2 linked regions of the Homo sapiens genome follow. The protein of the gene in region 1 purifies or fractionates together with the protein of each later gene. This does not show direct contact. Each region holds a gene or a part of one and is shown in the gene's direction. Other genes may lie near its edges.

Region 1 (4,903 bases):
TGATTTTGACAAATTACTTAATTTAGTCTCTTTATCTACAAAACGTAGATTATAATACTTCCCTCAGGCGGAGCACAGTGGCTCATGCCTGTAATCCCAGCACTTTGGGAGGCCAAGGTGGATGGATCGCCTGAGCCCACGAGTTTGAGACCAGCCTGGACAACATGGCAAAACCCCAACTCTACAAAAAAATACAAAAATTAGCTGAGTATGGTGGCATGTGCCTGTTCCTGTGCTACTCAGGAGGCTGAGGTTGGCTTGAGCCCAGGATTTAGAGGTTGCAGTGAGCTGAGATCACATCACTGCACTCCAGCCTGGGTGGCAGGTGAGACCCTGCCTCCAAACACAAAACAGGCTGGGCGCAGTGGCTCACACCTGTAATCCCAGCACTTTAGGAGGCTGAGGTGGGCGGATCACCTGAGGTCAGGAGTTCGAGACCAGCCTGGCCAACGTAGTGAAACCCCGCCTCTACTAAAAATACAAAAATTATCTGAGTGTGGTGGCGCATGCCTGTAATCCCAGCTTCTTGGGAGGCTGAGGCAGGAGAATCACTTGAACCTGGAGGCAGATGTTGCAGTGAGCAGATGGTGTCACTGCACTCTAGCCTGGGTGACAGAGCAAGACTCAGTCTAAAAAACAAACAAACAAAAAAAAACAAAAAAACAAACTTCCTTCAGAGAAGTATTGTTCCTCCCGGAAGAAAAGCTGTTTTTTTTTTAAATTTTTTTAAGTTTTCAATGTTTTATCATATTGGATAGCAGCTTTTTTTTTAATTGGTTACAAAACCTAAGCCCATATACAAAATTAGGAACACATTTAGATGCCTCTTTTGAAAGAACATTTTAGTCTTTTTAAACTGAGTTTTAAAAAAATAAAAACAATGCAATTTTTAAACACTGTTTTGAAAACTTAAAAGTGCAGCAATATAGTTAGTTTCCTTTATCTACGAAATGGGGCAATTCCAATTCAGAACTGGTAAGGTCACAAATTGAATCAAGGAAATGCATACAAATGTCTGCACTACTTGATGCTAATGTTCACTTAAATGTTAGTTTGCACTTTAAAACATGAGAGGAAATAGGAATCATCACAGTAGAGGCCCACTTTTAATCATAATGTGTGCAAATTTTAAAAGGTAACTGACAAGTAAGGAAAGTCCAGAAGAAACTAAACTGGAAGGGGTATAGTTCACAATATCAAAAAGATTTGGACTTTTAAGGGTTTCACCGAAGTTTGTGACCTTAATTAGCTTTTACGTTGTTATTCCTACTTTTAGTGAACACCACACAGAAGAAAAGCTGTTTTGAGTGTTAAATGAGACAATTTGTATAAAATTGGCACATATTAAATACTCAGTAAAAGGAAGCTGACCTTGACCCTTGTGGGAGAAATGACTTGGAGCCTCATTGGTTGCCTCTTTCCTCTTGGCCTCAGATCAAGGAGTTGTTGAAGAAGCTGGAGCAGCTTTCAGAAGAGGTTCTAGCAATTCGGGGAGAAAATGCTCGCCTTGCCCTGCAGCTGCAGGTATGTTTTGGCTGTCAGGGATGGTGCTGGAGAAGAAGGTCAGCAGTGGAAGTGATGTATATGTGGGAGACATTCTAGGAATTACTGAGGGAGACATTCTAGGAATTACAGAGGCCTGGCTAGGCAGTGGTCCAGGATGGGCCAGTGATGGGCCAACGAGCCCACCTGGTACTGCTGACCACTTCATTGTGTTGCTCCTCATGCTTGGGTGACTGAGGGTGGACATGTGACTTCCCATTGATGTTCATTCCCAGGATTCCCAGAAGAACCATGAAGAGATCATCTCCACCTACAGGAATCATCTACTGAATGCTGCTCGGGTGAGCATGGTGGAGTTTTGAGGGAGGTATAGACATAAAGCTGAGTATAGGGTATTGCATTTAGGGTCCCTCTCTCTTCTCCAGGGTCCCTGTACACACTTGCTGTTTCTCGGAAAGCTGGATCCAGTGCTAGGTCTCTGATCTCATTTGGTAGATCAAGAGAGGTTGTGCATGAATGTGAGAAGGAGAGGTGTTTCCCCCTCTGTTTCAATTCTCTGGCCTATAGTAAGGACTTTTCCTGTCCCCAATACCCTTTCTCAGTCTCCTCCTGGAGCCACTTAGTCCTAAACAAGGAAGAAGAGGTAGGTGTCTTGCTCCCTTGTTAGGAATAATAACTACAAAGAATGGAATGAACACCTATTGTGTACCTGGTGCTTTGCTTCATATTCATGGTTGTAATCCTCAGAGCAATCCTGAAAAGTAGACATCATTATCTTCCCTGTGAAGATAGGGAAAAAGCCATGGAGAAGTTAAATACTATAAGTGAAGGTATATAGTAAATAAATAGCCTTCCACTGTACCACAGAACCTCTCCCTCACCTCTCTCTCTCCATTTTCTGTTCTTCATCTCCTTTTCTTCCTTTCCTGACATCTACAGGGTTACATGGAACATGAAGTGTACAATATCCTGCTGCAAATCCTTAGCATGGAAGAGGAGTGAGGCAGCCTCACTGTGTGCCCTCAGGGATACGAGATTCTCTGTTGTGAGTTGTGGGTTAAGGGTGATGAGGGAAGGAGTTTGGGAGAAAGGGCTTGGGAAAGGTGTATGGAATGAAATTAGTCCCTTTTGCCCCCGTGGTGGCTGACAATGGGGAGCCTTTTGGGGCATAGAGCATTTGAGGTGACTGAGAAGACAGAACATGGAGAATCACTGGGTGGAGTCAGGAATCAGTGAGCAGGTGGACTAAGGGGGCTGACTTATGAGATGGAGACTGAAAAGAGGGGTTGGGTCTGGGGTAGGGAGATGCCAGTGAAAGATGAGTGATGGTAGGATAGTGGTAGACAGTTGTTCCTTAGGGCAGGACTCTACAAAATCCAGAATCTCTTCACTTTGATACCATTCATTCAAAGAGCAGTCATCCCCCAAACCTCCCCCCACCCCAATGCAGATAGTCCCCTTCTCCAGTCCAGATAGATGAGGGTCCCTTTTAGCATGTTGATATGAGTGGGAGGAGACTGAGGATATGGAAGTGGGTGCATTTCATCTTTGAATTTCTTCTTTCAGGGAATAAGAAACCCTGGTTGACAGAGGCTTCATCAGGCTGTGGTGGGCGGGGGTGTTGGCCACTAGGCAATGGTATGGGCAGGGCTTCACCTGACATTATGGACCTCAGACCTGAGAACCTGGACCCTGGAATCAGCATGGATGAGACCAGAGGAGGTATGGATGGAAACAAGCTCTATGGAAAATAAAGCATGAGGCAGGACGGGGCTGAGTGTAATTTTTTTTTTTCTAAAGGGGAGTGGGGAAAGGAATATCTTTCATCCCTTTATTCTTTTCTTTTTTTCTGGAAACAAATATTAACAGTATGTCTTTATTTTTAAAAACATTTTTTTACAAGTAGATTTTTTTTTTGAGGCAGAGTCTTGCTCTGTCGCCCAGGCTGGAGTGCAGTGGCATGATCTCAGCTCACTGCAACCTCTGCCTCCTGGGCTCAAGTGATTCTTGTGCCTCAGCCTCCCAAGTAGCTGGGATTACAGGCATGTGCCACCATGCCCAGGGATACAAGTAGATTTTGTTTTTTATTTTGCAAATAGACTTTATTTTTAAAGCAGTTTTAGGTTCACAACAAAATTAAGCAGAAGGTACAGAGATTTTCATATATTCTCTGCCCCCATGCAGGCACTGCCTCCCCAATTATCAATATCCTCACCAGAGTGGTTTATTTGTTATAATTGATGAACCTACATTGACACATTATTATCATTCAGAGTTCATAGTATACATTAGGGTTCACTCTTGGTGTTAGAGAGTCTGTTGGTTTGGACACATTTATATTGACATATATCCATCATTATGTTATCTTTTTTTTGTTTTTGTTTGTTTGTTTGTTTGTTTTGAGGCAGGGTCTTACTCTGCTGCCCAGGCTGGAGTGCAGTGGCATGATCATAACTCACTGCAGCCTCAACTTCCTGGGCTCCAGTAATCCTCCAACTCAGCCTCCCAAGTAGCTGGGGCTACAGGCGAGCACCACCACAACTGGCTGATTTTTCTGTATATTTAATAGAGACCAAGTTTTGCCATGTTGCCCAGGCTGGTCTCAAACTCCTGGGCTCAAGCGATCCACCTGTCCCAGCTCCCCAAAGTGCTGGGGATTACAGGCATGAGCCACTGTGCCTGGCCATCTCTATATTATCATACACAGTGGTTTCGCTGCCCTAAGAATCCTCTTTGCTCTGTCTGCTCATCTCCCCATCCCTGCTAACCCCTGGCAACCACTGATCTTTCTCCCATCCCCAGTTGTGCTTAGTTGGAATTATACAGTATGTATCCTTTTCAGACTGGTTTCTTTGAGTTAGTAATATACATTTAAATTTCCTCCATGTCTTTCCATGGCTTGATAACTCACTTATTTTTAGTACCGAATAATATTCCATTGTCTGAATGTGTCACAATTTATTTATCCATTCACCTACTGAAGGACATCTTGATTGTTTCCAAGCTTTGGCACTTTTTTTTTTTTTTTTTTTTTTTAGCAGAGTCTCACTCTATCACTCAGGCTGGAGTGCAGTAGGGCAGTCTCAGCTCACTGCAACCGCCGCCTCCTGGGTTCATGCGATTCTCCTGCTTCAGCCTCCCGAGTAGCTGGGATTACAAGTGCATGACACCACATCCAGCTAATTTTTTTCTATTTTTAGTAGAGACGGGGTTTCACCATGTTGGCCAAGCAGTCTTGAACTCCTGACCTCAGGTGATCCACCCACCTCTGCCTCCCAAAGTGCTAGGATTACAGGCTTGAGCCACCATGCCTGGCCTTGGCAATTATTTAATTTGTTTTTGAATGAAATTCACAAATGGCCCTATAAGTCAGCAACTTTCAAACTTTTTGATCCCTAGT
Region 2 (5,190 bases), on another chromosome or scaffold:
CACACAGCTAGTAAGTGGCAGAGCCAGAACTGGAACATAGGCGTTGGATATCCAAACCTATGTGTTTAACCCTTAGGATTCTCTGGTACTTGGGGGAGTAGGTGGTGCCAATGAAGCCACCTTAAGCAAGTTGCCCGGGTGCTCACTGCAGGATGGGCAGGCAGGAAGGCAGACTGGTGAGCCCCAGCTTACAGCTGCACTGCTGCCCACAGCGTGCCAAGTTGGAGGCCGCCATTGCCGAGGCTGAGGAGCGTGGGGAGCTGGCGCTCAAGGATGCTCGTGCCAAGCAGGAGGAGCTGGAAGCCGCCCTGCAGCGGGGCAAGCAGGATATGGCACGGCAGCTGCGTGAGTACCAGGAACTCATGAGCGTGAAGCTGGCCCTGGACATCGAGATCGCCACCTACCGCAAGCTGCTGGAGGGCGAGGAGAGCCGGTGAGGACAAGGAACCTGGAAAGGGGATGCTTCTAGGGCTCCGTGGGGTTTGGGGCTTGACATTCATCCATTTACAAGCATTTCCTGTATGCCCCTCCTCTGCAGGGCACTGGGTGTGGGGATGCAGGGAACACAGAGCTGATGCTTGCCTCTTTGCCTTCAATGAGATGACCTTCTAGAAGGAAAGACCATGGAGTGTGAAGCTCAGTGGGCAGGTTGAAATGATAACAGTCCCTTTGTGTGTGCGGCTTCTTAGGGTTATCATATTTGATCCTCAGCACACATTCAGGTAGTCAGGTCAGAGACGATTGATTCCTTAGTCTCCAGAGGGGAAAGCTGTGGTTGAGTTTCATTAATTGAGGGAATAGGGCCAGAGTGCAGTCAGGGTGTGCTGATTCCTGCTCCAAGGATCTTCCAGGACGCCAGGCTGCTTCTCACTACAGAACTAAGTGCTACATCATGTGGGGCTAACTGACTGTGGTGGAGGGGGATCGTTTTGTTTGTCCCCAGAGATATTTGCAGACTCACTTGCAGTCAGAGAGGAGGCTGGAATGGGGGAGTCTGATAGCACATTCTTCATGAACCGCATGCCACCTCTGTCTATGCAGCTGGGCCTTCATGGGCATATTGTTGGGTTCGAACTCAACCTCTTCATTCTTGGCTTGTTATAAGACACCATGGCAACAGAGAATACGTAGGACATGTTTCTGCCCTCAGGGAGGTTGCAGAGGGTGGAGGAGACAAAACATCCACAGAGGAAACCCCCAGAGACCAGTAACTTACATTTGTAAAATGCTGAGTGTATACAAGAACTTATTCTTTTCTGAGTATTATTCCTAAGGGGCCAGAGAGAGACATGACGGAGGATGAATGGAGCAGCAGGGAAGGGAATGGGGAGTGAAGGGGTGCTAGGGCCGAGGGCCTGGGTGCTGGGAGGAGAAGAGGAGACACAGGGCCGCAGGGTATGAGTAGGAGGCGGAGAGGAGGAGGAAGGGGCTTTGCCCCTGCTGCTGACCCGCCTTCTCCCTGGGTTAGCACCCAGTCTTCTTTGTGGGAAGAAGAATTAACACCAAAAGTCTCTGGGAACACAGAAGCTGATCTGGGCACAGGGAGCTCCAGCCAAGATGCCTCTCTCTGCTTTCGCCTCTCCCACAGGCACAGGGCCCCCAAATTCTCTACAACCCATACCCTGGGCCTTCTGTTGTCATAGAAGTCAGAGTTGGGGGACTCTTAGAGTGGTACCTGATCTGGCTTCCTCCCATGGGAAGAAAAGGGGACTGAAGCTCAGAAATGGTCAGTAGTGTGCCCAAGGTCACACAGCACGCAGAGACATCCTCTTCTGAAAGCTTAATCTCAGTCTGAGCTGCTGTAACCAGGCTTAGATCCGGGTACTCTGAGAGGATATGGTTCCCCCAACCCTGGGGGGATATGGAGGTAGATACCTTGCTTTTATCTCTTAACTTATCAGAGTTGTGGTCCAGAAACTCATTCAAACTGGGAGGCCTACTTTAAGAATACAAAGTTACCAAAAAAACCCCACTTACTTAGAATGAGAAAAGTCACACAGATCACTAGAGCCTTGGACATTCAGGCCTCTTCCGTCTGAGTTCCTTAGGCATCGTACCAGAAATTCTTCGAGTTGCTGCCTGACTGCAACCTGGCTCCCTCTCCCCACCCACAAGTGCCAGCAACTCCCAGCACCAGCAGGGGCCATTTAAGCAAGCCCCCTGGAAGCTTTCAGCAAACCTCTCTCTTTCCCTCAGCCTTTGCTCTGCCTGCTTCCTGGGCTTGGGGCCGCAGAGGCCAGCGAGGCTCCCTTCATTCCCTCCACCAAAGCGAGGTCTTCCCTGCCCCCACAGAGCAAACTGATCCCCAAGGCCAAGGCCTTGGTGACAATGGGACTGTGAGTCACAAAACAAACATAGCCAGCTGTCCCGAATGGATTTTTAATTTCTACTGCAAGACCTGTTTCAGCCCCACTGGCTGCTTAAAGCCACCCCCACTCCCTGCTCCTTCCTTAGTCCTGGCTGGAGCCCCATTCAATCAGTCAACGATTCACGAATTATTTTGACATATATTAAGCAATGACTTCTCCAGGCCTCATACTGGGGATAAAAGTATCAATAGGCCACAGACACCTTTAGGATTTTATGATACGGTGAGGAAAGGCAGCCATCTACATAAATAACACATACAGCTACCATTCACCGAATCCCAGGTGCTCAGGGCTTTAGACAGATTATGTCATTTAACCCTCACAGGCCCATGAATTTGGTCCTGTAGTTGGGCCCAAGGCATAGGTGGGAAATGGAGGCCCTGAGACATTGCCTGGGGTCAGGTGGCCAGTGGATAGAAGGGCCAAGGTGAACACTCCCTTCCTGCATGCCTCCTCGCTCCTTTTACAAGGCTGAAGGCAGGCTGGAAGTGTGGGGCAAGAAGGAAAAATCAATGATCCTGCTTGGGGCCTGGAAGGAGAGAGGGCTGAGAGCGCTTCCCTCCCACGCTAGGAAAGAGCCGTCCTCACTGTCTGTCCTCTGCCCCCAGGTTGGCTGGAGATGGAGTGGGAGCCGTGAATATCTGTAAGTCCTTGGCTGCGGCCCATGGGAAGCATCCCTTGTGCTGTTTAGATGGGGCTGGGTCTAGAGAATGGCAGACTGGCCCAGGGCCCTGCTGGAGGGGCCAGGAGACTCCTTCCTTTCTACAGGGATTGACAGGTCCCCTGGAGCACATACTGCCAGGCTCAATGGCCTGGGAAGCACTACAAGAGGGCAGGGTGGGGCCAGGAGCACCTGGGGAGCAGCCCTACCCCTGTCAGATGCTCCTTCTGGGTTGGCCCATGGAGGGGGGCAGGGGTGAGGGAGAGGGGCAGCTGGGGCAGGAGGGTGGGGTGCAGTGAAGGGATGGGGTCCCTGGTAGGGAGCCTCACGCTGAAGAGAGCCCTCCTCTTTTCTCTCCCAGCTGTGATGAATTCCACTGGTGGCAGTAGCAGTGGCGGTGGCATTGGGCTGACCCTCGGGGGAACCATGGGCAGCAATGCCCTGAGCTTCTCCAGCAGTGCGGGTCCTGGGCTCCTGAAGGCTTATTCCATCCGGACCGCATCCGCCAGTCGCAGGAGTGCCCGCGACTGAGCCGCCTCCCACCACTCCACTCCTCCAGCCACCACCCACAATCACAAGAAGATTCCCACCCCTGCCTCCCATGCCTGGTCCCAAGACAGTGAGACAGTCTGGAAAGTGATGTCAGAATAGCTTCCAATAAAGCAGCCTCATTCTGAGGCCTGAGTGATCCACGTGCCTGGTATCCTGGCTTCATGAGGCTGGGCAGGGGAAAAGACGGGACTAGAGAAGGCAGGGTCTCCCTGGTGACTAGGAAGCCTTTTGTGCAGGAGACTGAGAAGGCACATGGTGGGATGGGGTGCTGCTCTAAGGAGCAGGACGCTTACCTAGGGTGAGCCTTGGCCTCCAGGTCTGGGGCTGATCCCAAAGATTCTCCTGAGGAAGCCCAGAAGAGCCACGGGGAAATGCAGGCTCTGCCAGCAATTGGGCCTTGGAGGGCTGCCCTGCTAAGGGGGTGGAAAGGCTGTTTGCCTCCCTCCCCCCATGCCCAGAGCTGCCAGAGCACATTCCTTTTGTGAGGAGGCCACAGACGTTCAGCTGCCCCAGCTTCCAGTTTCGGGTGGCCCAGCCAACTTTCATGCCAGCCGTCCTCAGCCCTTCCTGGTGCTGGGTCTGCCAGGCTCATGGTCAGCCAGGCCTGGGGCCCTGGAGAGGTCCTCTGCATCTTGAATTCTGTGGAGGTAGTGGTTGTGGGGGGGAGGTGTGTGTGTGCATGGGAGGAGGGTCCTAGAGTCTAGATCCCCGGTAACAGGTCTGTGCCTAGGACCTTAGTGGAGGGATGGGTTTGTATCTGGATCCATGGGAGTGGGGAAGGACATCTGTGTTAAGTCAGTGCTTGATGGGGGCTTCTATGTCAGAGTCCCCGACACACAGGTCTGTGTGTCTGTGAGTGTGGCAGGTGTTCTGTGGCAGGGCCTATGCATGGGGAAATGTGTCCCTGATGGGCAGCAGCACATATGATGGGTACTGTGGAGCCACAGGGAGGTCTCTGTGTCTGGGACCCCAGGGGTGATGGTGGTGGTGTGGATGGGGGAGCTATGTGGGATGTGTTGGCTTCTGGGAGGAAGTCTGTATATTTGACCCTATGGTCAGGGAACTTTCAAATGCTGAGGTGGGGGCTGGGGTGGAGAGTGGAAAAAGTGGACCAGCAGCCACAGTGATGGGGTTCCCACCCAAGGTGTCAGGAGATCCAGGCCCTCTCCCTCCCGACTAAGAAGACCAAGTGGGCAAGAGGAAGGAGAGACTCTCAGGGCACAATGCATATGATCAGGAGCTTTACTGGAAATGCTGAGACAAGCACAGGGGAGAGGGAGGGAGCCAGGCAGCCAGGCAGGAGAGGTGGCCTGTCCTGCACGTGTATTAGAAGACATTGGATTAGAAGGCACAGCAAGTCCACACCAAGGGGCTCCAGGCCCATCTGTCCCTCAGAAGCCACAGGCATCCAGGCCTCCGGACCGGGGTCTTTACCTAGGGCTGCGAGGACAGTCCTTTAGATTCGGGGGTTGGGAGAGCTGCGGGCTAGGAGCCCTGTGCTCTCGGAAGCAGTGAAGGGACTAGCGGGCGGGGATGCGAGACAGGAAGGCGCGGCGTGGGGGCCGATGGGGAGGCTGGGCCCCGAAGCCCTCCTTCCCCACGTCTGGG

Evidence for each region. The genes of interacting proteins can lie anywhere in the genome.
Region 2: the proteins of ANKRD35 (region 1) and KRT7 purify together in Homo sapiens (affinity purification with mass spectrometry, with the first as the bait; one large-scale study listed by BioGRID). This does not show direct contact.

What each region holds. Positions count from the first base shown.
Region 1 is NC_000001.11:145,864,932-145,869,834, reverse strand, and holds the end of ANKRD35 (ankyrin repeat domain-containing protein 35), read left to right. Parts: intron 1-1,434; coding exon 1,435-1,524; intron 1,525-1,778; coding exon 1,779-1,844; intron 1,845-2,442; coding exon 2,443-2,505; 3' UTR 2,506-2,548; intron 2,549-3,069; 3' UTR 3,070-3,271; downstream 3,272-4,903.
Region 2 is NC_000012.12:52,245,200-52,250,389, forward strand, and holds the end of KRT7 (keratin, type II cytoskeletal 7), read left to right. Parts: exon of another isoform or gene 1-212; coding exon 213-433; exon of another isoform or gene 434-1,269; intron 1,270-1,977; exon of another isoform or gene 1,978-2,249; intron 2,250-2,977; coding exon 2,978-3,012; intron 3,013-3,391; coding exon 3,392-3,561; 3' UTR 3,562-3,722; downstream 3,723-5,190.